2 linked regions of the Homo sapiens genome follow. The protein of the gene in region 2 purifies or fractionates together with the protein of the main gene of each other region. This does not show direct contact. Each region holds a gene or a part of one and is shown on either strand. Other genes may lie near its edges. The genes, in order: GPI and GOT2.

Evidence for each region.
Region 1: the proteins of GOT2 (region 2) and GPI fractionate together in Homo sapiens (co-fractionation; 2 studies listed by BioGRID). This does not show direct contact.

What each region holds. Positions count from the first base shown.
Region 1 is NC_000019.10:34,369,563-34,385,636, reverse strand, and holds part of GPI (glucose-6-phosphate isomerase), read right to left. Parts: intron 8,135-16,074; coding exon 8,051-8,134; intron 7,903-8,050; coding exon 7,756-7,902; intron 6,704-7,755; coding exon 6,632-6,703; intron 6,120-6,631; coding exon 6,075-6,119; intron 4,172-6,074; coding exon 4,118-4,171; intron 1-4,117. UniProt on the Homo sapiens protein: In the cytoplasm, catalyzes the conversion of glucose-6-phosphate to fructose-6-phosphate, the second step in glycolysis, and the reverse reaction during gluconeogenesis.
Region 2 is NC_000016.10:58,731,317-58,747,542, forward strand, and holds the start of GOT2 (aspartate aminotransferase, mitochondrial isoform 1 precursor), read right to left. Parts: upstream 3,001-16,226; 5' UTR 2,913-3,000; coding exon 2,824-2,912; intron 1-2,823. UniProt on the Homo sapiens protein: Catalyzes the irreversible transamination of the L-tryptophan metabolite L-kynurenine to form kynurenic acid (KA). As a member of the malate-aspartate shuttle, it has a key role in the intracellular NAD(H) redox balance.

The sequences.
Region 1 (16,074 bases), on a different chromosome or scaffold from region 2:
GACTTTTTAGGTCTCATGAACACACTCAGCTTTGTGAAGCTGCCCTGATCCTGGCTCCAAAGACCTTACCTGCCAAACCCTGTTCTACACACCTGTGTTTAACTCCCGTTCTTCAGACCTGATAGACCCGAAGATGTACCTGGGCCAGGCTCCAAAGACCTCACCCAAGAAACTCAATTCCACATACCTACATACCTGTACCTGGCCACAGCTCCTCAACCTCACCCAGGAGAAGAACTTCTACCCACCCATCTTTTTTCTTTTTTTTTTTTTTTTGTTTTTTGTTTGAGACAAAGTTTCACTCTTGTTGCCCAAGTTGAAGTGCAGTGGCATGATCTCGGCTCACTGCAAACCCCACCTCCCGGGTTCAAGCAATTCTCCTGCCTCAGCCTCCTGAGTAGCTGGGATTACAGGCGTGTGCCACCACACCCAGCTAATTTTTGTATTTTTTAGTAGAAATGGGGTTTCACCCCGTCACCATGTTGGCCAGGCTGGTCTTGAACTCCTGACCTCAGATGATCCACCCACCTTGGCCTCCCAAAGTGCTGGGATTACAGGCATGAGCCACCACACCCAACCCCCGCTTTTTTTTTTTTTTTTTTTTGGAGATAGTCTCACTGTCACCCAGGCTGGAGTGCAGTAGCACCATCTTGGCTCACTCTGCCTCCCCAGTTCAAGCAATTCTGGTGCCTCAGCCTCCCAAGTAGCTAGGACTGTAGGCATGCACCACCATGCCTGGCTAATTTTTGTAGTTTTAGTAGAGACGGGGTTTCGCTATGCTGGCCAGGCTGGTCTCGAGCTCTTGACTTCAACTGATCTGCCTGCCTTGGCCTTCCAAATTGCTGGGATTATAGGTGTGAGCCACTGTGCCTGGCCTACCCATCTGTCTTGACACCACCTGGGAAATCCAGACCTGCTCACTGTGCCAGATCCCAGCTCCTCAGACCTCCTGAGAGACCTGGCTCTATCCACCTGCCTTCACTTCATATCCTCAGAGGTCATCTACCACATCCAGGTCTTTCTAGATGAGCCTAATCCGGACTCCTTGGGCCTCACCTGATAGATCCGTTCTACCTGTGCCTGACCTCAACTGCAGGACAGTTTAATTGGTTTGACCATGGCTGTTCCGGTCAACCTATCTTTGCATGCTCCTGGTTTCATAGATGTCACCTGACAAACTCTACCCACCATGCTTAACACAGCTTCTCGGTCTTGGGATACAAACCAGAGCCTGACCTCAGTGGCTCAGACCTTAACCTGTGAGACCCAAAAATACATACCTGTGTCTCACCTTAACCCCTGAAACCTCGCCTGCTAGATCTGCTCTACGTACCTCGACCAGACCCAGGCTTCATCCACCTTTCTGATGGATGCGGTTCGTCATCCCTTTGTCTGACCCCATCCCTTTGTCTGGTCTCTTCCCAGGGGACCCAGGCTCACCCACCAGAGCTGCTCAGACATCGCCCAAGGACACAGCTCCAACCTGGACCCAATCACAGATTTTCAGCCCTCACTTGTCAGACCCAGCTCGACCTGTCTGCCTATCTTTAGCTCCAACGTCCTTACCAGACTGGTCCAGTTCTGCCTACCTGAGTACAGTCTTGGCTCCTCAGGCCTCCCCTAGAAACCCAGCCATACAAACCTGTCTGATTCCAGCTCCTAGGACCTCAGACAGACGCGGCTCTGAAAGGCTGCATTATACACACCTAACCTGAACAGACACTTTCCTCACACATGACAGATCCCTGGCTGCTGACCTCGGCCTGAGGGAGCCTGGTGAGAGCCCAGTGTTGACAAACACTGTCTGACTGGCTCAGCCTTGATGTCTGCCCTGTAGACCCAGGTCTCTGGCCCTTTACCCAACCTGAGCCACTCAGACCGCACCCACCCAGCACAGCTCCTCATGCCACCTGCCTGCCTCACCTGCCCCAGCTCCCCTGTCCTTGCCTCATATCACCAGGTACATTCCTACCTCTCCCGCATCTGGGCTCTGCAGACCCTGATGCCACAGACTTGGACTTCAGTCACAAATTCTCAGAGGCCTCTGACGCCCTGAGCTCTGCCCATCACACCCAGTCAGGATGCTGAGAAGCAGGTGCTGACCTGTGTGTCCCTAATCCTGGGTTCTAAACTTGTGCAATCAGCCACCCACTACCTGATCCTCACTTTTCGGAACCGGCCAGAGATCCCAGCGTGCACACCTGTCCCATGCCATAGGTCTACACCACCTCCCACAGAGCCCGGCTGACATATGCACATACATAGCTTTGGCTCCTCAGACTTCACCTGACAGAACCACCTCTAAATACCTGCCTCTCCTCTGGAATTCACAGACCTATGGGTCCCTCTCCTGTCCTGGCTCCTCTTCAGAACTCACCTGGACCTGCTCTGGCTCTGCTTCAGGCCTCTCCAGCCAAAACTGGCCCTGTGGCGTGCGCTGACCCTGGCCGAGCCCTGAGAGACCCCATGGTTTCCCACCACACCCCTGCCTGATCCCGACACCCATGGCTGCCGCAAAACTGGCCCTGGCGGACCAAGAATTACCTCTTCTACATACCCCTACCAGACGGGACTCTTCTGATCTCACCTGAGGGCCGGCACTGCATCCCTAGGCCTGAGCTGATGGCTGTAGCTCACCCGAGACCCCACCTGCAGGAACTTCGCCTGCTCCTATCCCTGGGTTCTTCAGATATCACCTTCTTGATTCAGCAGGATACACTCTAGTAACTCAGGCAGGTCCCTCCTCCAGCCGTTGTGGGCTGTCTAGCCTGGCCCAGGAGGCCTCCACTTAGGTCTCACCAGCCAGCCCTGGCCCCATGTTCCTGTGTCCAGCTATCATTCCTAGGCCTTACCTGGGAGGCCAGACCCATCCTCTCCTTAAGCCACACCCTAACTCATCTCTACATGCTGGGTGGTGACAAGCAAGGACACCCCGATCTGCTTGGCTCCTTGGCTGGCAGCAGCACCCACACATCCCTGCCCACCACCTGCTCAGGCTCCAGATCCCAAGGAGGAGGTGGAAGGTGCCTGCCCTCCATTATCAGCCATGCAACATTTATTAGAAGCCGCACAGTCTCTCTTGACCAGTGTTCCGCATCTGAGCCACAGGATGCAGAAAATGACTTGAGTGATTCTCGTCAATTCTTCCAAGGATGGTATGTAACTAGTCTCATTCTAGAAAGAAGTTAACTCATTATACACAGTGGATGGCTTAAGGGATTAGGGCTTCATTCTCTCCCAGACCCTGGTAGTAAAAGGCCTTTAGAGCTTTCAAAGGAATGAGGTTATGTCTGTGGATGCCATCACCAAGCAAAGGGCCTCTGGTCCAAATGCCTGGAGACAGCCCCAGGTGGGAAAACCACCAAATGGGCAATGCCCTCTCTGCTGCGCCTGCCACAGCGTTAGAGCCCTGCACGTAAGCCCGGCCATGCCCACAGCATTCACAGTGCCTGCATCACACCCTGCACTGCACCCCTGCACCCTGGGCTTCACAGTCAGAGCCCTCCTCACACCACTGCTGAGCTCAGGCAAGTGCACAAGGAAAGCTGTGGCTCACTGCTCGGCTCCAGCAGAGGTGGTCCCATGGACCACCTGTTGCTACAGAGGGGTCGGCAGCCCTGTCACTCAAGGCAGGGTTTGCTCTGCAAGCTGCCCCAGCCTGGCGCCTCCTCTACGCCACCCCCCCAGCTCCTCCTGCAGCTCCTGTTGCTCCTTTCCAGGCCTACCCGGTCATACCTCATGCCTCACCCTGCCCTTGGCCTTTACAGATGGTGGCTGCAGTTCAGAGAAAGGTCATCACTGAGAATAACTCACAACCTCAACTCTGTGAGCGTGGCAAGGGGGACTCGGGTTACCCCACAGTGGGTGTTGCAGGCAGGCACCCAAGGGAGTGTCATGTGGCCCTGCAAGCTCAGCCCGCCCTCAGGTGGAAGTGGAGCCCTCATCCTGCCTGGGTTGCTCTTGCCCTCCAAGCCTCTCTGAGGGCCTCTCTACCTTTCCCCAAGCTAGGTATGCAGCAGGTACTCAATAAACACTGACCTGACCTCATGGGCCTCTCAACAGCCATGACTTGGCAAAGGACACTTAATTCACCCAGTGCAGAAGTGCTTGTACTTACATCCCAGAACTCGAACATGTTTTGAGGGTCAATTCCAAACTCCTTCACTTTGGTCTACAAAAAAAAAAACAAAGGGAGAGAAATGCAAAGAAGCATTTGCTAGCGGGATGGGAACAGGAGCTCCGGGAGGCAGGGAGCTGTGCTCCGTGAGCTGAGCCTCACCTTCCCCAGAGCCAGGGATGGGGCAGGGCTGGAGCAGCCTGTGAGTCGAGGGCAGGGCCCAGGATCTGCCCACCCCAAGCTGGACACCAGATCAGTCCATGACCAGCACGCCAGTGACGTTGTGCCTGCAAAGCCCCCTGCTGAGGGCAGCTGTAACCCCGTGTGAGGACCTGGCCCACACACTGCTCTGCAACAGCTCTCACCCAGGCCTGCCTGGGACACCAGAGCATGATACCCCTGGACATCTGGGAACCGAACCTAGGACTGGGACCCAAGTGTGGGCAGGGGCCACCTACCAGGCCAGGCAAACAAACACAGGCTGAACAGCCACCCAGCCCTTCCCATGTGTGGGAGGGTGACTGCACCAGGAAGCTCTGAGGAGCCATCAGGTATTCTGGTCCCCAGGGCAGACAGGGCCAGCAATTCCTTACCTATTCCACATAGGAGGAGAAGCCCTACTGACCAGTCAGTTGCAGGCAGGCAACAGTGCTATGGTTAGCCAGCCTTATGGCGTCCTGCTGCAGCTGGGTAGGCACTGGAGGCAGAGATGTGGGGATGATGGTGGAGGGGGTGGGAGGGAGATGTGGGTGTAGTCCCCAGCTCTGACACAGCACAGTGCCCACTGGCTGACTGCTGCTGTCACTCCTGGAGCATCCCTCACTCTGTCATGCCCTGCTGAGCCTGCACAACCTCGAGGCCAGGCAGACTGTGAGAACTTGGAGACAGGAGACCCAGGTTCTAATCCTGGCATCACCTACTCATACAGTCACTAAGTGGGCCGGGTACAGTGGCTCATGCCTATAATCCCAACACTTTGGTAGGCCGAGGTGGGCAGATCACTTGAGGTCAAGAATTCGAGACCAGCCTGGCCACCATGGAGAAAACCTGTCTCTACCAAAAATACAAAAATTACCTGGACGTGGTAGTGGGCGCCTGTAATCCCAGAATCAGCAGGCTGAGGCATAAAAATTACTTGAACCCAGAAGGCAGAGGTTGCAGTGAGCCAAGATCGTACCACTGCACTCTAGCCTGAGTGACAGAGTGACCTTGTCTCAAAAAATAAGCTGGACATGGTGGCACACACCTGTAATCCCAGCACTTTGGGAGGCTGAGGTGGGCAGATCACTTAAGGTCAGGAGTCAGAGACCAGCCTGGCCAACGTGGTGAAACCCCGTCTCTACTAAAAATACGAAAATAGCTGGGCATGGTGGCGTGCACCTGTAATCCCAGCTACTCGGGAGGCTAAGGCAGGAGAATCGCTTGAACCTGGAAGGCAGAGGTTGCAGTGAGCCAAGATCACGCCACTGCACTCCAGCCTGGGCAACAGAGTGAGACTGTCTTAAAAAAAAAAAAAAAAAAAAAAAAAACAAAACCACACACACTAAGTAGGGGGCAAAATGTCACCTCCCTTCATTGGGGCTTTATGTCCTTAAGTGAAAAATGGAATGCATCCTCTACCCCTACCTAGCATGTCACATTTGGGGAGATGCTGGGCACAAAGGCCTAGGAAGGTCATGTGTATGAAGGGTTCTGTGTATCAGTCAGGCCTGGGAGACGGAAGAAGGGGTTATCGTGATCCCACTGACTCCAAGCCTCCCTCCTCAAAGCTGCAGAGGTTGAATGGGTAAATGCGGAAAAGGCAAGGAAGGCTTGCAGCCCACAGGCAACCAAACCTTCCATACCATCAGCCAAGCCAAGATCCACCAGACCTACGAACCGCGTCTCTGAGAGGCCATGACCTGGACATGCTGGGCACTCCCAGGAAGGCAGTACAGGGGACCACGGGGGCACTTACTGTGTTAGTAGACAGGGCAACAAAGTGCTTCGCCACTGCAGAAGGCTACAAGAGACAGAGCCAAGTTACCACAGCCAGCCCAGGGAGACAAAGGGTAGTCACTTCCCATCACTAGAGGAACCAAGGCCCTGCATGGGACTGAGATTCCCAGTCCTTGGTTCTGAGACTGTTGGAGAAGGCCCACATCGAGGTCAAGGTCAAGAAAGCAGACGGGTCACAGGCCGCCTGCTCATCCCATCTTACAAGCATACGGGGCTCAGGGACGTCCCTCCCCTATAAAATAGGTGTGGCCAAGAGTTCCTGCAGCGCCAAGGGCCTGCAGAGAAAGGGCCATGCAAGGGCTGTCAGCCAGCGAGAGCAGGTTCTGTCACATCTGCAAGGCTGGGTCTGACAAAGCCAAGATGAACAATCATCTCATCTAGCAAAGGCAGGCACCGGCAAGGCCGCCTTCACTTCCAACTTCAGGAGAAACACGGCCAGACTTGGTCACTCAGGGGCCCACCCTGCTCTTCCCAGCCCAGAGGCTAACCACGAGGAAGGCCCTATAGCCCACTCACATCCTTGGCCGCCTGGAGAAACCACTCCTTCGCCGTCTCTGCATTCGTGATGGTCTCCTGGGTAGTAAAGGTCTGCAACCAAAGAGAACAGCAGTGGGCGCCCGAGCTTAGGGGTGGGTGCAGGCCTTGAGCCAGGGTTCAGCAGTAGAGGCCAAGGCAATGCCCAGCTGTCCCATGGAGCAGTATTTGCAGGTCAGTGACAGTGACGCCACATAACCTCCTGAGATTCCAGCTCTTTAAAACCAGAGGAGGGGGGACGGTAAACACACCCCCCAACCCTAAGCCTGCAGGTCAAAGGCCGCAGCTTCTCCCCTGAGGGGCTGCAGTCAACCTGAGGCTCTCTTCGGCCCAGGCTGGAAGGTATCTCAGAATTCAGATGGAATTCTTCATATTTTATGTACATTCATGTGAGTAAATAGAACATAAATAAAAACAAACAAAACCCCTCTATTATCAGGGCATGGCTCTGGGATCAGAAAGGAGCAAGCATGGCTGGGCATGGCGGCTCAAGACTGTAATCCCAGCACTTTGGGAGGCCAAGGGGGGGTGCATCACCTGAGGTCAGGAGTTCAAGACCAGCATGGCCAACATGGCAAAAGCCCATCTCTACTAAAAAATAATAATAATAAATAAATAAATAATAAAATTAGCCAGGCGTGGTGGTGTGTGCCTAGTCCCAGCTACTTGGGAGGCTGAGGCAGGAGAATCGCTTGAAACCTGGGAGACGGAGATTGCAGTGAGCCGAGATCACGCCACTACACTCCAGCCTGGGTGACAGAGCCAGACTCTGTCTCAAAAACAACAACAAGAAAAGGAGCAGGCATAAAGGACAGGTTTGTAAGAAAGTGGCGAGCAGTCCCAGGCTGAGCAGAGATGCCGCAAGGCGAGCGGGTGTGGTCAGGACACAAAGGTTCAAACTGATGTGTTCAGGATTTCATCAGTCAACCTTATTTGCTGCTAGGCATGGAAACAGTCTAGGGCAGCTGTACTGACCTGATCCACAAACCATGGTTCACTCGGAACCCACCAAAAGGGACCAATGGCCAGGGGGATGGCAAGACAGCTGTCCCTCCCCACCCCAACACACACAGGGCCAGGGGCCGGGCAGTTTTCGGCACTCATACCTTGGAGGCAATGATGAACAGGGAGGACTCGGGGTTCAGCTGGGCCAGGGTTTTGGCAATGTGAGTTCCATCAATGTTGGAGACATACCAGACGCGGGGACCTCCTGAAGAGTATGGCTTAAGGGCTTCAGTCACCATGAGGGGTCCCTGCGGGGAGACATAGCATCAGAGAATAAGAATTCAGGGCCCACGAAAAGTGGAGACAGCCAGGTCCCATCCCTGGAGAAAGTAAAGACCTGAGTGGGACCAACAGTGCCCAGACTCCCACCCTACCCCAAGGCAGTTTTCTCCTCACCAGGTCGGAGCCGCCAATGCCAATGTTGATGACGTCCGTGATGGTCTTGCCTGTGTACCCCTTCCAGTCACCGCTCCGGACACGCTGGCACAGGGGCGAAGATGCCATCAGCCCAAACCCCCAGGCATAATCCGCTGCTCAAAAACATCATTACTGCCGTGTCCTGGTACCTCAGTCCCAGCTTTCAGGCCCTCGCAGGTGCCTCTATTTTTTTGTTTTTAATTTACCATATATATATATATATATATATTTTTTTTTTTTTTTTTTTTTTTTTTTTTTTTTTTTGAGATGAAGCCTTGCTCTGTTGCCCAGGCTGGAGTGCAGTGGCATGATCTCGGCTCCCTGCAATCTCTGCCTCCCAGGTTCACGTCATTCTCCTGCCTCAGCCTCCTGAGTAGCTGGGACTACAGGCGCCCGCCACCACACCCAGCTAGTTTTTTGTATTTTTAGTAGAGACAGGGTTTCACCGTGTTAGCCAGGATGGTCTCGATCTCCTGACCCTGTGATCTGCCCGCCTCAGCCTCCCAAAGTGCTGGGATTACTGGCTTGAGCCACCGCACCCAGCTATTTATTTTTAATTTTTTTTTTGAGACAGAGTCTCCACTTTCTGGGTTCTAACAATTCTCATGCCTCAGTCTCCTGAGTAGCTGGGACTACAAGCCTGCGCCACCAGCATGCCTAGCTAATTTTTTTGTATTTTTAGTAGGGACGAGGTTTTGCCATGTTGGCCAGGCTGGTCTCGAATTACTGGCCTCAAGTGATCTGCCCAGCTCGGCCTCCCAAAGTGCTGGAATTACAGGTGTGAGCCACCGCGCCTCGCTATTTACTTATTTTTAAAACTGTGCCTTAGGGGCCAGGCAGGGTGGCTCAAGGCTGAGACAGGAGGATTGCTTGAGTCCAGGAAGTTGAGGCTGCAGCAAGCCAAGATCGCAACACTGCACCTCCAGCCTAGGTGACAGAGGAAGACCCTGACTCCAAAAACAGAACAAAATGCTCTGCTTTAGCCTTTTTTTTTTTTTTTTTGAGACAGGGTCTCACTCCGTCGCCCAGGCTGGAGTACAACGGCACGATCTCAGCTCACTGCAGCCTCCGCCTCCAGGCTCCAGGGTTCAAGCAATTCTCCTGCCTCAGCCTCCCAAGTAGCTGGGATTACAGGCACCTGCCACCCTGCCCAGCTAATTTTTAGTATTTCCAGTAGAGATGGGGTTTCGCCGTGTTGGCCACGCTGGTCTCAAACTCCTGACCTCAGGTGATCCACCTGCCTCGGCCTCCCAAAGCGCTTGGATTACAGGCATGAGCCACCACGCAAAGCCTATTTTATTTTTTGTAGAGACAGCGTCTTGCTACGTTGCCCAGCCTGGTCTCTAACTCCTGGCCTCAAATAATCCTCCCATCTTGACCTCCCAAAGTGTTGGGATTACAGGCGTGAGCCACTACACAAGGCATAGGAGTCTCTGGAGACCACACTGGTCCCTGCCACACTCACCACCAACTAGACTCTTTCCTGGTTACAACAGTGAGACATCCCTACCTTACAGCGACACTGTCAGAATTTGCAAAACCAGGGATAACTCGGCAGAATCTGCTATGCCAGAGACCAAGAGATGTGAAATGTTGAAAACTGTGACTGGGCTATGCTGGGGAAAGGAGTATCAGACCCGCAGCCAGTCTCCAATCAGACACCAGTGATCCTTGCTTCCTGGAATTCATGCCTCTGCATAGCTTCCGCCTGTGCTGGGAGGGGTGACCTATGCACCCATCCAGAGACTGCAAAAAGGGGTGAAATGTGACTTCAGAAGTGAGTTCAGAGAACGTGCAGTTTCTGCTTTGCTCTCTTGGATGACTCGCTTTGGGGAAGCTGTCTATCATGTTGTGAAGACATTCAAACAGTTTCATAAAGAAGCCCACGCGGCAGCGAACTAAGGCCTTTTTCCAAAAGTCACAGCCAACTCGCTTCCTGTGTATGGGACACTTTAGAGGGGGGTCCTCCAAACCCATCAAAACTTCCGATAACTGGGGCGCTGGCCAACATGTTGACTACAGCCTTATGAGAGATCCCCAAACCAAGACCAACCAGCTAAGCCGCTCCCAAACTTCTGACCCACAGACACTGTGAGAGGTAATAAAAGTTTACTGCTAGGCCGGGCATGGTGGCTCACACCTGTAATCCTGGCACTTTGGGAGACCAAGGCAGGCAGATCACAAGGTCAGGAGTTCGAGACCAGCCTAGTCAACATGGTGAAACCCCGTCTCTGCTAAAAAAAAAAAATACAAAAATTATCCAGGCATGGTGGCGTGTGCCTGTAATCTCAGCTACTCGGGAGGCTGAGGCAGGAGAATTGCTTAAATCCAGGAGGCAGAGGTTGCAGTGAGTGGAGATCACGCCATTGCACTCTAGCCTGGGCGACAGAGCAAGACTCCGTCTTAAAAAAAAAAAAAAAAGTGTATTGCTGTTTTAACCCAAGTTTTGATGTCATTTGTTATACAATGATAGATAACTAATACAGATTTTGGTATCAGAAGTACAGTGTGGTCATAATAAAAACCTAAATATGCAGGCCGGACTCAGTGGCTCATGCCTATAATCCCAGCACTTACTGGGAAACTGAGGCAGGAGGATCACTTGAGGCCAAGAGTTTAAAACTAGCCTGGGCAACATAGCAAGACGTCATCTCTACAAAAAATAAAAAAGTAGCCAGGCATGGTGACATGTGCCTGTAGTCCCAGCAACTTAGAAGGTTGAGGTGGGGAATTGCTTGAGCCCAGGAGTTCGAGGCTGCAGTGAGCAGTGACTGCACCACTGCACTCCAGCCTGGGCGACAGTGTGAGACCCTACCTCAAAAAAAAAAAAAACAAAGAAAAAAAGAAAAAAGAAAGAAAAGAAAAGAAATAATTATCCCATACATACCAGTCATCCCATGCCCACCTCACCATTGTATGCTGGGTGTGTGAGGGGTAATTTGTCTCTTTAAATTCTCATGTCTTCAGATTGAAAGGAACTGTACTAAAGGAAATGCAGGTACTACTACACCTGTACTTGACAAAATGAGGTTCTAGACTTCTAACAGACTTCTAATACTGTAACAGAATATGGACTTAGGAGAAAGTGAGTGGGGTATCTGTGTGTGGAAGGAACAAAATCAATCACTAGGCGCCAGAAGCGGGACTATGATAGTCCCCCACCTTCTAAGATGGTGACCAGTGGTCCTTGTCTCCTGGCATTAACCCACTGATGCAGTCCCTTCCCATGATGACCAGAGCTGATCTGTAACACCAACGGGGTATTATAGAAATCAAAGAGTGTAGCCGGGCGTGGTGGTTCACCCTGTAATCCCAGCATTTTGGGAGGGCAAGGCAGGCGGATCACTTGAGATCAGGAGTTCAAGACCAGCCTGGCCAAAATGGTGAAACCCCATCTCTACTAAAAAAATTTAAAAAAAAAAAAAAAAAAAAAAAGGCGGGCATGGTGGCGGGCACCTGTAATCCCAGCTACTCAGGAGGCTAAGGCAGGAGAATCGCTTGAGCCGGGGACCGGAGGTTGCAGTGAGCCAAGATCACGCCATTGTACTCTGGCCTGGGTGACAAGAGTGAAACTCTGTCTCAAAAAAATAAAAATAAAAAAAAGAAAGAATGTGAATCCTGATATTAGGTCACAAAAGACCTCCAGGCATCTGCCTTACTCTCTATTGGATCACTCACTCTGGGAGAAATAAGCTGCCTTGTCATGAGGACACTCGAACTGTCTGTGCCTCCCAAAGGCAGCACTGCTAGTGAGCCATCTTCAAAGCAGACCCTCCAACCCCCATGAAGCCTTCAAATGACCACATCCTTAGCCAACATCTTGACTGCAACCTTAGAATATCAGAGCCACTACACCAAACACAGCCACTGCAAATTCCCCACATAAAGAGACGGTGATTGTTGCTTCTAGTTGCTAAATTTTGGAATAATTTCCCACACATCAATAAAAAATTACTATACACTAATAAGATCCAGCAATTTTCTTTTAATTTTTTTTTTTTTTTTTTTGGAGATGGAATCTTGCTCTGTCACCCAGGCTGGCATGCAGTGGTGCTATCTCAGCTTACTGAAACCTCCACCTCCCGGGTTCAAGCGATTCTCCTGCCTCAGCCTCCCAAGTAACTGGGACTACCGGCATGCACCACCATGCCCAGTTATAAATTTTTTTTTTTTTTTTGAGACAGAGTCTCGCTCTGTCACCCAGGCTGGAGTGCAGTGGCGCCATCTCAGCTCTCAGTAACCTCCACCTCATGGGTTCAAATGATACTGCTGCCTCAGTCTCCTGAGTAGCTGGAATTATGGGCGCCTGCCACTACTCCTGGCTAATTTTGTTTGTATTTTTAGTAGAGACGGGTTTTGCCATGTAGGCCAGGCTGGTCTCAAACTCCTGACCTGAAGTGATCCGCCCACCTCGGCCTCCCAAAGTGCTAGGACTACAGGTGTGAGCCACAGCACCCAGACTATAAATTATTTTTTAATTAAAAAAAAAAAATAGGCTGGGCACGGTGGCTCACGCCTATAATCCCAGCACTTTGGGAGGCTGAGGTGGACAGATTATGAAGTCAGGAGTTCGAGACCAGCCTAGCCAACATGGTGAAACTCCATCTCTACTAAAAACACAAAAATTAGCTGGGTGTGGTGGCAGGTACCTGTAATCCCAGCTACTCGGGAGGCTGAGGCAGGAGAATCGCTTGAACCTGGGAGGCGGAGGTTGCAGTGAACCGAGATCAGGCCATTGCACTCCAGCCTGGGTGAAAGAGAGAGACTCTGTCTCAAAAAACAAACAAACAAAAAAGAGACAGGGTCTAGGTTGCCCAAGCTAGTCTTGAACTCCTGGCCTGCAGTGATCCGATTCACCCTTCCAAAATGCTGGGATTATACAAGAGCCACTGCACCTTGCTGGGTATTTTTTAGTTTTGTTTTAACGACAGGGTCTCGCTCTGTTGCTCGACCTGGAATGTAGGAGTATGATCATAGCTCACTGCAGCTTCAAATTCCTGGGCTCAAGCAATTCTCCCGCCTCAGCCTCCTAAGCAGCCAGGACTATAGGTACACACCACCACAGCTGGCTAATTTTTAAATTTTTGTTAAAGGCAGGGTCTTGTTATGTTGCCCAGGCTGGTATTATACTCCTGGCCTCAAGCAATCCTCTTGCCTCTGCCTCCCAAAGTGCTGGGATTACAGATGTGAGCAACTGTGCCTGGCCCTACTTTTTCTTTAAATAAACTGCCATGGGAAAATTTCCATCAATACAGAAAGAAATAAAATAAGTTGTTCAACTTCTCAACCCTCCCTCACAGGCGTGTGACAAAAGAGGTTAGAAAAAGCAAGTCTTGGCTGGGTGTGGTGGCTCATGCCTGTAATCCCAGGACTCTGGGAGGCCAAGGTGGGTGGATCACCTGAGGTCAGGAGTTCGAGACCAGCCTGACCAACATGGTGAAACCTCATCTCTACTAAAAATACAAAAATTAGCTGGGTGTGGTGGCGGATGCCTGTAATCCCAGCTACTCAGGAGGCTGAGGCAGGAGAATTGCTTGAACCTGGGAGGCGGAGGTTGCAGTGAGCCGAGAACTCGCCATTGCACTCCAGCCTGGGCAACAGAGTAAGACTCTGTCTCAAAAAAAAAAAAGCAAGTCTCCTTTCCCGACTGTCAAAGGTTTGTTATAATGAAGCATCCCAGAGGAAAAATGTGTCTTTTTTTTTTTCTTTTTGAGACAAAGTCTCACTCTGTTGCCCAAGCTGGAGTGCAGTGGCGTGATCTTGGCTCACTGCAACCTCCACCTCTGGGGTTCAAGTGATTCTCCTGCCTCAGCCTCCCGAGTAGCTGGGACTACAGGCATGCACCACCATGCCAGGCTAACTTTTTTGTATTTTTTTTTAGTAGAGATGGGGTTTCATTATGTTGGCCAGGCTTGTCTTGAACTCCTGACCTCGTGATCCACCCACCTCGGCCTCCCAAGGTGCTGGGATTACAGGTGTGAGCCACTGCACCAAGCCAAATGTGTCTATCTTTATTACAATTACACCCAGCCTTCATTTGACCAAATGAGTCTTTACCATACCCACCAATTCTGCAACTTCCTTTTTCAACTTCCCAGTCCATCCTGAACAGCATGGCAGATCAATCCAACTATAGCTCCCTAATCCCTATTGGTGCCCAGGATGACAGTATATGAATATGTGCTGACTCTACTTTGTAAGTCCCCTGACAAATGAGTACAGCTTGGTTTCAGGTTTTGCCACTACAATCAAGGTCACAGTGAACGTCTTCACCCAATCTTGGCAAACTTTGGAGAGCACAGCCATGGGGAATGTTCCTCACCAGGGGATTACTGCCATTCAGCAACTTTTTTTGAACTATAAATACCTTATCAGCCTGAGTCAGGTACTCCAGTGGCCAGCTTTAAGGGAAGGCTTTCCTGGAAACAGCACCCCAGACGGTGCAGTGCCATCCTCGCCATGTGGCATGGCTGAGCACACCCAGACTGATCACACAGCACTAGGCTTTTAATGCACTTCAGCTCTGCCACTCACAGCAGATGGCTGGAAAGGCCCCGCCACACACCCAAAGACCATCACATGGACTGATCACCCTAAGTGACATTCAGGAAATCCAGATTCCCATCAGGACCCCACAACTTCCTTGCCCTGGAGGCGTCTCACTCTGTCACCTGAGCTGGAGGACAGTGGCACAATCTCAGCTCAGTACAGACTCAACCTCCCGGGCTCAAGCAATCCTCCCACCCCAGCCTCCCAAGTAGCTGGGATACACCACCACACCTAGCTGATTTATTTATTTTTTCCAGAGATGGGTTGGTTTTTTTGTTGGTTTTTTTTTTTTGAGACAGAGCCTCACTCTGTCACCCAGGCTGGAGTGCAGTAGCGTGATCTTGGCTCACTGCAACCTCTGCCTCCCGGGTTCAAGAGATTCTCCTGCCTCAGCCTCCCCAGTAGCTGATATTACAGGTGCTCGCCACCATGCCCGCCCAGGTAATTTTTTTGTATTTTTAGTACAGACGGCGTTTCACCATGTTGATCAGGCTGATCTCAAACTCCCGACCTCACATGATCCACCTGCCTCAGCCTCCCAGAGTGCTGGGATTACAGGCGTGAGCCACTGCACCCAGCCCATTTTCAGGTCTGAAAGTGGCTCTTGGCCAAAGTAACTGGACTCTGACCAGCCACACATGGAGGCCACTGCTCCTAGGACAAGCAGCAAATGATCACAGCTGACAAGAGTTTGGACGATCACCCTCGTAGCATGCACAGCCCACACAGGCACACCGGCATCACCCTCGTTCTCCAGACGTGAGGATGTCTGCCAACCCACCCCTGCAGAATCACCGCTAGGGTAGACACTGAGGCAAGTGCTTGATGTGGGGAAACTTAGCTGGTCTCTGAGGCAACCCCTACCACCCTACACACAAGGAAAAGAAGGCATGTTACATGCACTGTCACTGACACACGGACACTGCTTACATACTTCCAGGTGGAAATAAGCTTCAGAGGAGCAGGGAGAAAACCAACCTGTGTGCATGTGCACATGTGTACGTGTTTCAAAGAGGAGATGACAGATGTGTATGTGCACAGGAACTTTCTGGAAGACTTCACAGGAAAACTTTTCTATTTTTTAAATTTATTTAGAGACACGATCTTGCTGTCGCCCAGGCTGCAGTGCAGTGGTGTCACCATGGCTCACTGCAGCCTCAACTTCCCAGGCTCAAGCCATCCTCCCACCTCAGCCTCCTGAATAGTTGGGAATAGAGGTATGAGCTGCTGCGCCTGGCTACAGGAAACTTTACAAAGGCTGCTTCTGGAGGGTTAGCTGGGAATGGGGATGAGGAAATTTTTTTTTTTTTTTGACAGAGTCTCCCTCTGTCGCCCAGGCTGGAGTGCAGTGGCGCAATCGCAGCTCACTGCAACCTCTGCCGCACGGGTTCAAGCGATTCTCCTGCCTCAGTCTCCCAAGTAGCTGGGATTGCAGGCGTATGTCACCAAAACTG
Region 2 (16,226 bases):
GTATTTTATGTAGAGACGGGGTCTTGCCATGTTGCCCAGCTGGTCTAGAACTCCCGAGCTCAAGCAATCCACCTGCCTCAGCCTCCCAAAGTGCTAGAATTACAGGTGTGAGCTACTGTGCCTGGTCTGTGATCTTTTAACCAATGGTTATGGTACCACAGTTGCACACTGCATTTTTAAAGTCTCACGAGACCTGCTCAGTTATTTCACCAAAAAGTAAATAATCAGAATTAAATAATTAAAAGCAAATCATTATAAATCAAAATACATTAGCATCTTTTTTTTTCTTCATTGAACTGCAACTATGTCTGATCTCATGTCACTATACATTTACAGTACAAGTCAACAAGAGAAAGTTTTATTCGCAGTGTTTAGCTAAATGATACACTTGAACTTACAAAGAGTTCCACATATTTACAAAGAGTTCCAAGTATGCCATTGGATAAATCCTCAGTTCTTCAGAATAACAACAGACAAGGTTTTATTGTATTAGAATGAGCCATTTAAATAGAAATGTCGATGAATTCAGTTTAAGTATTTTCCACTTTTACCATTTGGAGCTAGGTAAAGATCACTTCCACAGTGTAAGGAGGGAAGTCTGATCTTGCCTGAAGAGTTAACCTTCATGCCAAATATGGCATCTGATTCTGTCACCTAATCAGGTATCATTATTTAAATCTGAAGAGTAATTCCTCAACATTAGGTGCTCAACTATTTCAAGAATTTATTTTCTGGTCAGGTGGGGTTGCTTAGCCTATAATCCCAGCGCTTTGCGGGGCTGATGTGGGAGGAGTCTGAGACCAACACAGGGAGACTCTGTCTCTACAAAAAATAAAAAATTAGCTGGGTGTGGTGGTGTATGCCTGCAGTCCCAGCTACTTGGGAGGCTGAAGCAGGAGGACCACTTGAGCCTGGAAGGTCAGGCTGCAGTGAGCCATGATTGTGCCACTGCACTCCAGCCTGGGCAACACAGTGAGACCCTGTATTTAAAGAAAAAAAAAAAGGGAATTTTTTTTGGTACATATTTTGCAGCACTGTGGTTCCCCTGTGTAAGATTAGTCGAGAGAAGGAACAATAAAATCTGTAACTGGTTATGATCAATTAGTTGTAAACACCATTACACTTGGACCAGCCTATGTTCAGATTTTGATCTAAGATACAACATTAAAATGTCATACTGTATTTGTTTCCGTTGCATTACGTGAAAAATCAGGGCTTAAAATAAAAATATCCAATATAAGAGACATGCCAGCAACTGTTAATAGTGCTGAGATGTAACAGTGAATATAAAGTAGGTAAAGTCTCCGCTCTCATGGAACTTACATTCTAGTAAGAAAAATACAGAAAAGAAAAATGAGTCAGACTCTCAAACTGAAAGAATGACTAACCCTGACCCCAAGGGATTTTCACCAAGCACTAGAGCTTCAGGTGATCTAGCCAAATCCATAAAACAAGGTATTATTTTAAGATTACTGCAATAGGGAAACATACTTTCTCTTGACGGAAATTTTAAGCACTCCTTTGGTTTTCCAAATTTGTTGCATAAATAACTCCTCCTGGCTCTGGCCCACTAGGTAGGCAGACTTAAAGAGCACACGTTGACAGTGGGCCAGGAAGGAGCCAAGTCAGGAAGAGAAAAAAGTGCGAAGCCTGGGCAAAACTGTACTGCCAAGGCTGTGGGGCCTTGGAAAGGACAGATAGTTCTGCTGGCTGAAAGACACAGAGCATACATTCAAACGAAAGGCCAAGCTACGCTTTGCTCCTTGCAGTTAATACCTGCTTGGGGGTGGTTTTAAAACTCAGTTCCTTATTAAGGTAGTGCTTAAGGAGAGTGCTCCAAATCGGCTTCTTGAGTTGAATTAATCTTCTGGCTCCGGTCTCCACTGGGAATGAATTACTAGAGCTCGTTTCAAGCTCTGAAATTTCCCTCCATACTATTATACACGCCACAGTACGAAATTACGTTTGTCATTTTTTGAGCAATGACCATTTGTCATTGTCCTTCCCTCGCCTTGTTCACAGTTGTATCGTTGGCATCTGGTCCAGAGCCTGGCTCTGAGAAACTGCAGTTACGAAATATTTACTGAATGAAAGAGCACAGGGAGATGGAGAGGAAGATTGATAGCCTCCCTGCAACCGGACCTCCTTAGGGGCAATAAGGAAAAAACAAAACAAAACAAAAAAAGAGACACACTACACCTCGACCCTTTCCCAAGCAAAGGCCAAACGGGCCCCGGGGTCACAGGGACCTCGGGGGGTCGCAAGGTCAGGAGAATGCCGCACGCCAAGGTCGCAGGTGCGGGAAGGAAAGCGAGGCCCGAATGCCGGCGCCCCGGAAACCTTCCTCTCGCGCTCTTCCCGCCCAGGGCACACACGCGGCAGCCAGCCGCCGCCGGCCCACCGACTCGGGCGGGCCGGGGGCCAGGACAGGTGCGCCCGCCGCCCCCAGGGCACCCTATCAAGGGCACGGTCGTTACCCGGCGCCGCTGCCCCAGTACTATCCGCACCCCTCCCACTGAATGGGAGTCCGGCAACCGCCGAGGGCCACACTTCCTTTCCCTAGGGATTGCGTTGCACGCCTTCCTGCAGGGCCCAGTGCGGGGACCAGAGGGATGTGGGATCCTGAGGATCACTGTGGGGCACGGACGCTCAATCCTCAGTCCCCAGTAAGGGAAAGCCGAGGGGGTGGCAGAAAAGTGTGTGTGTGTGCGTGTGAGTGACAGTGTGTATTTGGGGGCCGGGAGGGGTGAATGTCCTGGGGTGCTCGCAGCTCGGCGGGGCAGGGCCATCGCCCTGGCTCCATCTCCGTTTCCCTTGGCTTACCTGGCTCTGGCAGAGGCCGCGGCGGCGAGGCCCGGGTGGAAGGCGGCGGCGATCCCGGGGAGGACGCGGCCGGAGTGCAGCAGGGCCATGGTGGACCGTAGGAGGGCAGTGGGCAGCCGCAGGACGGAGCAGAGGGCGAGCGGACACACACACAGGGAACCGGCTCCTGCTGAAGGTAAGGACAGGGACTTCCCTGGGCCAGAGCGGCCGCGTGCTGGGCCCGAGCCACGTCACAGCGATCCCTGGCGGCCGGCGGGCGGAGCGGCGTGGGCTCAGCGGAGGTCGTGGAAGAGGATGACTGCACAGTTTACCTACGCCCAGCCCTTGCTGCGCTTCATTCATTTAATCCAGCTGGGCCAGGCCTGGCCGGCCGAAGAGGTGGCTGCTGTTATGGCAGTTTGAAAGATGAGAAAATGTAGGCTGACATAGTTGACGTATTTTGTCTGATGCCTTACAGCCATTAGGACCCAAGGTGGCCTTACTTTCAACCCTAATAGTTTCCCTAAGCACAAGTCATGTCACGTCGTTCCTGAATGTTTCCTTATCCCCCACCCTTTTTTTTTTTTTTTTTTTTTTGAGATGGAGTTTCACTCTGTCACCCAGGCTGGAGTGCAGTGGCGTGATTTCGGCTCACTACAACCTCTGCCTCCCAGGTTCAAGCGATTCTCCTGCCTCAGCTCCCCGAGTAGCTGGGTTACAGGTGCCACCACCACGCCCGGCTAATTTTTGTATTTTTAGTAGAGACGGGGGTTTCACCATGTTGACCAGTCTGGTCTCAAACTCCTGATCTCAAGTGATCTGCCCGTCTCAGTCTCCCAAGACTGCTAGGATTACAGGCATGAGCCACCGCACCTGGCTTCCTTATCCCTTTTATGGAGAGGGTCGCATGTGTATTTTGTGGGGCAGTTGTGAGGATTAATAAGATTAGCAGATTATGTCTAAAACAGGGCCTGATTTAGTAAGCACAAAATAACCCATGGTCATTAATGACAAACTCGTGTATGTCAAATCCTGATAACTGTTTGTGGAAGGAAATGAATCGGTTTTGAAGGAAATGAATCGGTTTTAAAGGAAAAAGCAAATGAATTTCAGACACATCCACAAGTCAAACGAGTCTTTCTCATGTGTAGTCTATTTCTCTGATACTCGTCTCTTAAACCAAGGTAGGGGCCCGGTGTGTTGGCTTATGCCTGTAAACCCAACACTTTGGTAGACTGAGGCAGGAGGATAGCATGAAAACAAGAGTCTGAGACCAGCCTGGGTAACAAGATGAAACCCCCATCTCTTAAAAAAATAAAAAAAAATTAGCAGGATGTGGTGTTGCGTGCCTGTTCCAGCTACTCAGAAGGCTGAGGAGGGAGGATTGCTTGAGCCCATTAATTCAAGAGTGCAGGCCGGGCGCGGTGGCTCACGCCTGTAATCCCAGCACTTTGGGAGGCCGAGGCAGGCGGATCACGAGGTCAGGAGATCGAGTCCATCCTGGCTAACCCTCTCTCTACTAAAAAAATACAAAAAAAAAGTAGCCGGGCATAGTGGCGGGCGCCTGTAGTCCCAGCTACTCGGGAGGCTGAGGCAGGAGAATGGCATGAACCCGGGAGGCGGAGCTTGCAGTGAGCCAAGATCGCGCCACTGCACTCCAGCCTGGGCAACAGAGCCAGACTCCGACTCAAAAAAAAAAAAAAAAAAAGAGTGCAGTGAGCCAGGATTGCGCTACTGCACTCCAGCCTGGGTAACAGAGTGAGACGCTGGCTCTAAATAAATAAATAAATACATACATAAATAAAATAAAACCGAGATAGAACTGTGTACCTTGGCAATTTAATATCTCCTCTGTGGCTCCACGTTGCCTGAATGGTAAAGTCTAAACCCCTACTTAGGGCCACATTCTAGGTCCTTCCGGCCCAGCTCCAATTTACTGTCTCAGACCCTTATGCTCTCATATGACCTTGACCTATGCGCCTATAGGCCATGACTTGGGATTCTACCTGTGAAAAGTAAAGTAGAGATTCTTCTTTAAAGACTTTCCTCCCTGTCTAATTAGAAATAAATAGTAACTTCTCTTAAAAACAAAATGTATTCAAAGACCTGTACTAACAGTCTTAAATATCTGCTAGCCATAATAAAGAAATCAATGTACTTTATGTTCCTAGCTGCCACCATTTAGCCTAAATATTTGCCCTGGCATGCTTATACTGGTCCAAGCAAGCATTAGGTCATAGCCTGTTCCTCTTCCTTATTTGAAGGTGTTTTTACCTTTCTCAGCATTCCACAAGTTACTTCCTCCTTCCTTTGCTCTCCTCTGCCTTTGCCTCTTTTAAAAAGTTCTAAGTTGCTAGCCAATCAGAACAAATACAAAATGTGAGGACCTGTTCCAGCCAATGAAAACCGGACACAGCAGCAAGGTGGATGTATCAGGTTATAAGTGACCTTGTCTCCTTTGTTTGGTGTACTCTCATGGCAAAACTGCTGTCGAGTGTACCCTTTCTGCCGAAAGTATAAAGATGGCCTTGCTGAGGAAATTAAATTTATGTTCAAGTGCTATTTCTTTACAGCACCAAGAAACAAGAATTTCAAACATACCAGTACATCAGTTTGCTCAGACTGCTGTAACAAATCCCCATGAATTGGGTGGTTTAAAACAACAGAAATTTATTCACTCACAATTCTGGAGGCCCAAAATCAAAAATCAAGGTATTGGCAGGGTTTGTGCCTTATGGGGTCTCAGAGACTCTGTTCCATGCTTCTCCTAGCTTCTGGCAATTGTCTGCACTCCTGGGCATTCGTATGCTGTTAGAGGCATCACTAATCTCTGCCTCTGGTGTCACACAGTGTTCTCTCCCTGTCTGTCTCTTCTCTTCTTTTAAGGACACCAATCATATTGGGGTAGGGTGCATCTTAATTGCCTCATCTTCGCCTGATTACATCTGTAAAGACCCTATTTTCAAATAGATCACATTAATGGGTTCCCCAGGTTAGAACTTAAACGTATCTTTTTTGGGGGCACATTTCAACACATAACAACTACTATTCCCAAAACAATTACATGTCCAGGTATAAACCCTAGAGATCTTCTCACACATTTTTAAGGCTGTCAGTAAAGCATTGTTTATAAAAGCAAAACAGGGAACAACCTAGTCGCCCATCGATGGAGGAAGAGATGGATGTTCTGCTACAGTCTCATGATGGAGCATTACAGAACTACTAACGTGAATGAACTCAATAGATGTCACCATGGATAGACCTCAAAAACATAAACATGCTATAGAATTATACATATAATATGGTGCCACTTAGACAATATTTTTAAAATACACAAAACCATAACATACATTTATTCATAAATGTATGTAAAAGTTTGAAAAAATATGCCAAGGATATGGTTCAATACAGGATTAGGAGGGCATGAGCGTATTTGCCCTTGTGGAGGGAAGGAGACAACTTTGTCATATTAGCTTCATAAAAATTATAGATAAGAGGCAGGCACGGTGGCTCGCGCCTGTAATCCCAGCACTTTGGAGGCCAAAGCGGGCGGATCACCTGAGGTCAAGAATTAGAGACCAGCCTGGCCAACATGGTGAAACCCCGTCTCTACTAAAAATACAAAAATTAGCCAGATGTGGTGGCGCGTGCCTATAGTCCCAGCTACCCAGGAGGCTGAGGTAGGAGAATCGCTTAAACCTGGGAGGCAGAGGTTGCAGTGAGCCTAGATTGTGCCACTGCACTCCAGCCTGGGCACAGAGCAAGACTCTGACTCCAAAAAAAAAAAAAAAAAAGAAAAAAAGAAAAAATACAGATCAGATTAACAATTGTCACCATTTTGGGGTTGAGTATTTGTCACATTGGATTCTGTACTTTTCTGTATGTGTGTATATGTGTGTGTGTGCATATAGTTTTTTGTGTGTGTATATATATACACATATACATATATATACACACATATACATACATATACACATATACATATATATATATACACACATATACATATGTATATATGCTAATTTGAGTTCCTGATATGAAAGGTGGATTGGAAGGAACAACCCTACAGTGGGGAGACTAGGTAGAAGGAAGGTTTACACAGGAATCCAGGCAAGAAATTCTGATTGCCTGAGTTCAGGTAGAGGTAACAGTGATGTAGAAAAGGTTACAGATCTGGGGCATATCAAGGAGGTAGAATCAGATGGATTTGGTGATTAGATGCAGAGAAAGGTAGAAAAGGAGTCAGAAATAATTCCCAATGCTTTAGTTAAAATTGGGGTTGTCTGCAGTTAACAGAGACCCCGAATAATTGACTTAACATATATATCTTTCTCACATAAAAATCTGGAGATAGGCAGTCCAGGGTTGGGGTGGCATTTCTGACCCAGAGTCCTTAGGAAGTCAAGTCCTTCCAGATCCTCGCCCCGCCCTCCCTAAAGTATGGTTGACTCCCAGTGGTCCAAGATAGTAGCCATAGCTTCATCCATCACATCTCCATTCAAAGCAGCTGGAGTGCAAAGGACGTACACCAGTTAACTTTTAAAAGAGTTAAAATATGGGCCAGGTGCAATGGCTCATGCCTGTAATCCCAGCACTTTGGGAGGCTGAAGCAGGAAAATTGCTTGAGTCCAGGACCGGTCTAGACCAGTCTAGGCAACATAGTGAGACCCTGTCTCTACAAAAAAAAATGCAAGAATTAGCCAGGTGTGGTGGTGTGCGCCTGTAGTTGCAGCTACTTGGGAGGCTGAGGTGGGAGGATTGCTTGAGCCTGGGAGGCAGAGGTTGCAGTGAGCCGAGATTGTGCAACTGCACTCTAGCTTGGGCAACAGAGTGAGACGCTGTCAGGGGGCGAGGGGTGGGGGGGAAGTTAAAATAGGAGGAGGCAGAGTGTGGCAAAGATCAGATGGAGGAGAGAGTGAGCCAGGGGAGCACAGAGGAGGAAAGGCTCAATGTCAGCTGTGGAAATCAGGGAGGCCTTCATGGGGGAGGTGACATTTGATCTGAACTTTAAAGGACTGAGGTAATGTGGTATGTGGAGGAGGAAGGAAGGAAAAGACATGGCCTATGCCCCTCCTGATTATCTTCCTTGTCCTGGCTGTCTACCTCCCCAGTCTCCCTCCACCCCCCTTTTCTGTGGACCTGCCCCTTCTGGCCATTGCCCTGGGCTTTTTCACCCACGCACCTCATATTTCCAACCCTACTATTAATTACTTGGATTCATGAATACTGCATTTCAGGTTTTGGTCCTGAGCCACGGGTCCTTTAAGCTGTCCACCTGCTCTGACAGTCTCAGGAGCAAATGACAGCACTCCTTCCCCCTCAGGGTCAACCACCATGTCTCCATTTCTCTGTATTTTACAATATGGAGTAAATGCTCATTTGAAAAAATCATCAGGTTTTTGATTTTTGAGTAAGACTCCATCTCAAAAAAAATCATAAACTTTGTTAAAACATTATGAGTTTTTTTGTGATTTTTTTTTCCTCTAGCTCTTCAGCTGTCATCATTGTTAGTGTATTTTATGTGTGACCCAAAACAGTTCTTCTAGTGTGGCCCAGGAAGCCAAAAGATTGAATACTCCTGTCTTACACTGTCACCTCGGGACATCTATAAAGCTTAGATGTTGCAAAACAATGAACTTTGTCCTCAAGAAACACAGCTAATTTACTAAAAATGCACATGTAGACCTATGATTTTAATTTAAAACCATCTTCTAGATATTTACCGAAGAGCCCTTCCCTCCACCCTTTCTCTTCTCCTTCCACCATTCCAGGGACTAAGTACAGGACTATGTCTAGCTCCAAGAGGTCTAGGGACAAAGGTCTCTCCCAGAAGACAGGTGTTTGTAAAAACGAACAAGAGTACATTTATAAAGGGATTATTTTACTTCCTCTACTTTAACATACTTTGAGCATTATAACTTATTTTATTATTTAATGCACGCAATAATAACTAAAATGTGCATATAGAACAATGGTTAGGCCATCTGAAGTAGTCTAACTCATGGGCATAGAACCCTTCTCTCTGCAAACTTCCTCCTCCCCATCACCCACCACCACCCAATGAGCAGTCAGCATACCCTCCAAGACATCAACTTTAACAATTCTGTCCCCAAAATGCAACCACTCCTATAATGTTTAAAAAAAAAAAAAGAAGGGTATTACTTTAGCCCTTTTAACATATTTTTGTGCATTTTTAAACATCTAGGAAGATGAGCTGTTTCAAACAGGACTTAAGTTTTTCACTATACACGCAGTACCATTGAGTAAACGGTGCACATACATAACAAAGGCTATAATTTCAATATGTTTTCTAACTAGGAACATTCTGGCCTAGAATCCTTCCCCTTCCTACCTCTATCAACCCAGGGGACAAGTATAAGCATCTGCAATGCTTAGGAGGGATTTTTTAATTTTAATTTTTATTTATTTATTTTTTTAAGACAGAGTCTCGTTCTGTCGCCCAGGTTGGAGTGCAGTAGTGCAATCTCGGCTCATTGAAACCTCCGCCTCCCAGGTTCAGGCGATTCTCCTGCCTCCGCCTCCTGAGTAGCTGGGATTACAGGCACATGCCACCATGCCTGGCTAATTTTTTTTTTTTTGTGTATTTTTAGTAGAGATGGGTTTTCACCATGTTGGTCAGGCTGGTCTCGAACTCCTGACCTCGTGATCCGCTCACCTTGGCCTCCCAAAGTGCTGGGATTACAGGCATGAGCCACTCCGCCCAGGCTGGGATTTTTTTTTTTTTTCTTTTTTGAGACAGAGCCTCGCTCTATCGCCCAGGCTGGAGTGCAATGGTGCAATCTTGGCTCACTGCAAACTTTGCCTTCCAGGTTCAAGCCATTCTCCCGCCTCAGCCTCTGGAGCAGCTGAGATTACAGGCACCCACCACTATTCCCAGCTAATTTTTGTATTTTTAGTAGAGATGGGGCTTTGTCATGTTGGCCAGGCTGATCTCAAACTCCTGACCTCAGGTGATCCACCTGCCTGGGCCTCGTAAAGTGCTGGGATTACAGGTGTGAGCCACCATGCCTGACCTTACAAGGGATTTTAAAAATTTCACTTCCATAAGTGTTTTTTAAGAACAGTCTTTCCTATGAATTTTAATGTAAAGTGTACTCAGTGTATTAGTTTACTAAGTTCACTTTTGTCATATGCTGGCAAGCTCTGTAACATCTTGGAAGACTAGATGTTGTAAAGCAGGACTCATTTGACCCTTATATACACTAGATACACAGCAAAGTAAAATTAAACGCACAGACGTAAGGGACAACGGTCAAATGTTGTTCACCATAAACACTCTTGTATAAAGCCCTTTGAACTTTCTTCTCCTCCTTCCTCCCTGAACTAGCACAAATATAATAATGTGTACTGCTCAGAGAAATCAATTTCTAAATTGACCAATTTCTAAAAGACAACATTTCATATGAATTTTAACAAAAGGATATCTATAAAATGTGCTATTTACTACCTCTACTTTTAACATACTTGGTCCACTTCTAAATATCTAGAAAGAGTAGATGTTTCAAATAAGGACTTAGGCTGGGTGCAGTGGCTCATGTCTGTAATCCCAGCACTTTGGGAGGCCGAGGTGGGCGGATCATGAGGCCAGGAGTTCAAGACCAGCCTGATCAACATAGTGAAACCCCATCTCTACTAAAAATACAAAAATGAGCCAGTAGTGGTGGCATGCGCCTGTAGTCCCAGCTACTCGGGAGGCTGAGGCAGGAGAATCGCTTGAACCCGGGAGGTGGAGGTTGCAGTGAGCCAAGACTGCGCCACTGCACTCCAGCCTGGGTGACAGAGTAAGACTCCGTCTCAAAAAATAAATAAATAAATAAAAAATAAAAAATAAAAAAATAAGGACTTAAGTTTTCCACTATATACACAGTAATATTAAATAAATGGCACATGTAGCAATGGTTATATCTGAAAGTATCTTCTAAATAGGAACATTCTGGTTTCTTTTCTTCTTTTCTTTTTACTTTTTCACTTCCTTGTCAGTGCCAAGGAACATTCTGGTTTGAATCCTTCATTTCTTCCAACTCCTCTCCACCAACAATCTGGTGGATATAGGGACATGTGTCACTTAGAAGAGATGTTATCATTTCACTTCCAAAAGTCCTTTTCAGAAGACAGCTTTTCATGAATTTTAACACAAACTGTACAAAATGTGTTATTTACTAATATTTAGAGACTAGACATTATAAAATTAGGACTCATTTGTCCAGTATATACACAATACATACAGTACAGAAAAGTTAAGTGAAATGCATGTAACATATAGGGCAATGGATAGACTGAAATTTTCTATTTATTTATTTATTTGAGATGGAGTTTTGCTTGTGTCGCCCAGGCTGGAGTGCAATGGCAGGATCTCAGCTCACTGCAATCTCTGCCTCCTGGGTTCAAGTGATTTTCCTGCCTCAGCCTCCCAAGTAGTTGGGATTACAGGTGCCTCCCACCTCACTCGGCTGATTTTTGTATTTTTGGTAGAGATGGAGTTTTGCCATGTTGGCCAGGCTGGTGTCGAACTCCTGACCTCAGGTGATCTGCCCGCCTCAGCCTCCCAAAGCGCTAGGATTACAGGCATGAGCCACTGCACCCATCCAATAAGCTGAAATTTTCTAGTACACAGTAACAAAACACATTTTGCAATTTCTTCCCTCTTATCTCCCTCAACCCAATGAACAACTACAGAGATTATACTGTTCTCAGAGGTGTTTCATATTAGAACTTGTCCACTGTGTACATGGCACTGTTAAAACTGCACACATGTGGGCCGGGCGTGGTGGCTCACGCCTGTAATCCCAGAACTTTGGGAGGCCAAGGTGGGCAGATCACCTGAGGTCAGGAGTTCGAGACCAGCCTGACCAACATGGAGAAACCCTGTCTCTACTAAAAATGCAAAAATTAGCCAGCCATGGTGGCGGGCACCTGCAATCCCAGCTACTCGGGAGGCTGAGGTAGGAGAATCGCTTGAACCCAGGAGGCAGAGGTTGCAGTGAGCCGAGACTGCACCATTGCACTCCAGCCTGGGCAACAGAGCGAGACTCCGTCTCAAAAAAAAAAAAAAAAATTGCATACATGTAACAATTGTTATAGGTTGGTGCAAAAGCAATTGAGGTTTTTGCATATAATTTGAGGTATCTTCTAAGTATGAGAACATCGTGGGCTTGAACCATATGCTCCTCACTTCCTTCTCTCTGTCATCAATCCAGTGGACTAGTACAGGCATGTGTAATGCTTACAGAGGTTGCACAAACTCATATCCAAAAGTCATTTACAGAGGACAGTGTTTCCTATGAATTTCAATACAAACTGTACAAAATGAGCTAATTTTACTAAGACTTGGTCATACGCTGGCAGCCTTTTTAACATCTAGAGACTAGGTGTTGGAAAATTAGGACTCATTTGTCCATTACATACACTAGATACACAGCAAAACAAAATAAACAAAATGCGCAGAAAAACAGTGTCTGAAAATTTCCAAGTGTGAATGCACTAGCATATTACCTTTTGCAATTCCTTCCCTCCCACCTCCTGCAAACCATTGAAAAGTATAGATGGTACTATCCTGCTCATAGAGGTGGTTTAACAATTTTATTTCCAAAAGATAATATTTCTTATGAATTTCAGCAAAAAGATATTTACAAATTGATATTTTACTACCTCTATATTGAACATGTGTTGGGTACTTGTAAACATCTACATAGACTAGATGTTTCAGGTAAGGATATTTGTCCTCCATAGACACAGCAGTACTGAATAAACCTCACACATGAAACAATAGTTGCAGTTTTTTTTCTTTTCTTTTCTTTCATTTTTTTTTTTCCCCTGACACAGAGTCTGGCTCTGTGATCCTGGCTGGATCTCAGCTGACTGCAACTTCTGCCTCCTGGGTTCAAGCAACTCTTGTGCCTCAGCCTCCCAAGTAGCTGGGATTACAGGCATGCGCCACCATGCCTGGCTAATTTTTATATTTTCAGTAGAGAGGGGGTTTCACCATGTTGGCCAGTCTTGTCTCAAACTCCTGACCTCAGGTGATCCACCCACCTTGGCCTCCCAAAAAGCTGGGATTACAGGCATGAGCCACTGTGCCTAGCCTGCTTTTTTTTTTCTTTATTTCTTATTAGAAAATAGGGGACGCTTCATGAATTTGCATGTCATCCTCACACTGGGGCCATGCTAATCTTCTCTGTATCATTCCAACTTTAGCGTATATGCTGCCAAAGTGAGCACAATAGTTATCATTTAACAGTGTCTTCAAAATATGAACATTCTGGCCTAAAACTGTTCCCTTCTACACCAACGCAGTGGGCTATAATGCTCAAATTTTCAGATGACAATCTTTCCTAGGAATTTTAAAACAAAATGTACAAAATATATTAATTTAACTAACTCTACTTTTGCTTTTGTCATACACTGGCAACCTCTCTAACATCTAGAAAGAGTAGCTGTTGTAAATTAGGACTCGTTTATCTTTTATGTACACGATATATACAGATAAGTAAAACAAAATGCACAGACAGAAGGGCTAGTGGTTAATCTTGCTTCATTATAAGCACAGTGGTGCAGAGTTCATCGCACTTTGAGAGGCTATAGTGAGCTTCCTTCTTCCCCTGAACCGGTGCACAAACACGACGTGTACTAGGCAAAAACATTTCACATGAATTTTAACAAAAAGACACCTGTAACCCCAGCACTTTGGCAGGCCTAGGCCTGCGGATTGTTTGAGGTCAGGAGCTCAAGACCAGCCTGGCCAACATGGTGAAACCCCATCTCTTCTAAAAATACAAAAATTAGCCGGTTGTGGTGGTTCATGCCTGTAATCCCAGCTACTTGGGAGGCTGAGGAAGGAGAATGGCTTGAACCTGGGAGGTGGAGGTTGCAGTGAGCCGGGATCGCGCCACTGCACTCCAGCCTGGGCAGAACGAGACTCTGTCTCAAAAAAAAAAGTTTTACAAAATGTGATGTTTTACTACCTCTACTTTTAACATATATCAGGCACTTCGGAACGTCTAGAAAGACTAGTTATTTCAAAAAAGTACTTTGCACTGTCAACTATATATAAAGTAGTGAAGAATAAAATGCACGCACGAAACAATGATTATGACATGAAAACATCTTCTCCATATGACCTGCCTGGCATAGAACCTTCTCTTCCTTCTCACAGACTTCTGTTTCACGTCCTCTAACCCCCTGTACAAACGTGGACGTGTGTCACTCTTGGTGCTTCTACATTTCAAAAAGTCATTTCCAGTGGGGGTGGCGGGGTTGGGGTGGGGTAGCTCATGCTTGTAATCCCAGCCCTTAGGGAGGCTGAGATGGGAGGATTGCTTGAGGCCACGAGTTCTAGGCAAGCCTGGGAAACATAGCAAGACCCTATCTCTACAAAAAAAATAAAAAATAAAAAATAAAAAAATTAACTGGTTATAGTGGCATGTGCATGTAATCCCAGCTACTCAGGAGGCTGAGGTGAGAGGATTGCTTGAGCCCAGGAATTTGAGGCTACAGTGAACTATGTTCGCATCACTGCATTCCAGCTTAAGTGACAGCAAAATCCTGTCTCAAAAAAAAAAAAAAAAAAAAAGAAAGAAAAAAGTCATTTTCAGGAGACATATCTCTATGATTTTTTAAAAAAACAAATGGATGTTTACAAGATGTGTGATTTTCTAACTCTGTCATAATTGGCAACCTCTTTACATCTAGAAGGACTAGATGTAGCAAATGTTTTGTTTTGTTTTGTTTTGTTTTTGAGATGGAGTTTCGCTTGTAGGCCAGGCTGGAGTGCAATGGTGCAATCTCGGCTCACTGCAACCTTCCTGGGTTCAAGCAATTCCCATACCTCAGCCTCTCAAGTAGCTGGGATTACAGGTGCCCGCCACCACACCCAGCTAATTTTTGTATTTTTAGTAGAGACGGGGTTTCACCATGTTGGCCAGGCTGGTCTCAAACTTTTGACCTCAGGTGATTTACCCGCCTCGGCCTCCCAAAGTGCTGGGATTACAGGCGTGAGCCACCGTGCCTGGCTGCAAATGTTTCCTTTTTTCTTTTTCTTTGTGTTTTTGAGACAGGGTCTCGCTCTGCTGTGTTGCCCAGGCTCTAGTGCAGTGGCACACTCATAGCTCACTGCAGCCTCTGCCTCTCAGGCTCAAGTGTCCTCCCACCTCAGCCTCCTGAGTAGCTGGTACCACAGGTGTGTATCACCACACTTGGCTAATTTTTAAATTTTTTGCAGAGAAGGGAGTCTCACTATGTTGTCTAGGCTGGTTGTGAACGTGCCTAGGCTGATCGCTGAAGCGATCTTCCCGCCTTGACCTCCCAAAGTGCTGGGATTATAGGCATGAGCCACCAGCCCAGCCAAATTTTTTCTTTTAAAAAGTTGGGGGGCAAATCGAGATTAGCTTTTTCATATTATATACACAGGCCTTCTGTGTATTATACACACAGCCAGTAAATCTTTCCAAAGGGTGGTAGGCATTTCCAGTTGGCCAAATGTGGTCTCTTTTTCTACTATTTCTCTCTACCTATATTAAGGTCTGGTAGATTTGTCTGATGGCTGCTGACTCATCCATCTGTTGTTGTCCTGGGCTCCCTCATCTCCTGGCTGGTTCAGGCCTAGGGAGGTCTTGTCCAATTGGGACAGACCGGGCAACCCAGGATCCAGATCTGCACGGCCCCGTGGCCTACAGAGGTGACCAAGCCTGTGTCAGTAGACCTGCCTTTTCGCCTGGCCACACCCATGCCACTCAAGGGCACTGTGTCCTAGCAGCTTGCAGGGGCTTTGCCTGGGCCTGGCAGGACTGGGCCAGGAGACCTCGTGGCTGGTATGGTCCAGGCTGGGAGAGGCTGTTACTGCCATCAAGTCACCCAGGTGGGGAGGGGAGAGAGGTTCCCTGCTGCCTGGGCCCGGCCGGAGGGCAGCCACGGCGAGAGCTCTGGGCATCTGCAGCGCAGAGGCAGCAGCCTGTCCTGGGGACCCCCAGTTCATCTGCCAACCTGGAAGAGCTGGCCTCGTTCCGCTTCTCACCTGGCTTTCTGCTGGAACGTAAAATCAGTTTTTTTTGTTTTGTTTCGTTTTTTTGGAGATGGGGTCTTGCTTTGTCACTTAAGCTGATCTTGAACTCCTGGGTGACTGTGCCCAGCCAGAATCATTTTTAACAAAACAATGTGCAAGTCCTTGGATTAGGCAGTCTGAGTGACCTTTGGGTTCAGGCGTTCATGGCGCCAAGTTCCATCACTTAGAACTTACTAGACACCATGCTCTGTTCTGCTGCATCCAGAGCTTCTCTGGGCCTCTCCCATTTGTTTCCTGCTGGCTCCCAGACAGACCCAGAGGAAACATTTCCAGAATGACCTCAGAAATGATTGCGGGGATCCTTTTCACCCAGGGATCCAGGTAGATATATATACACGTATATATA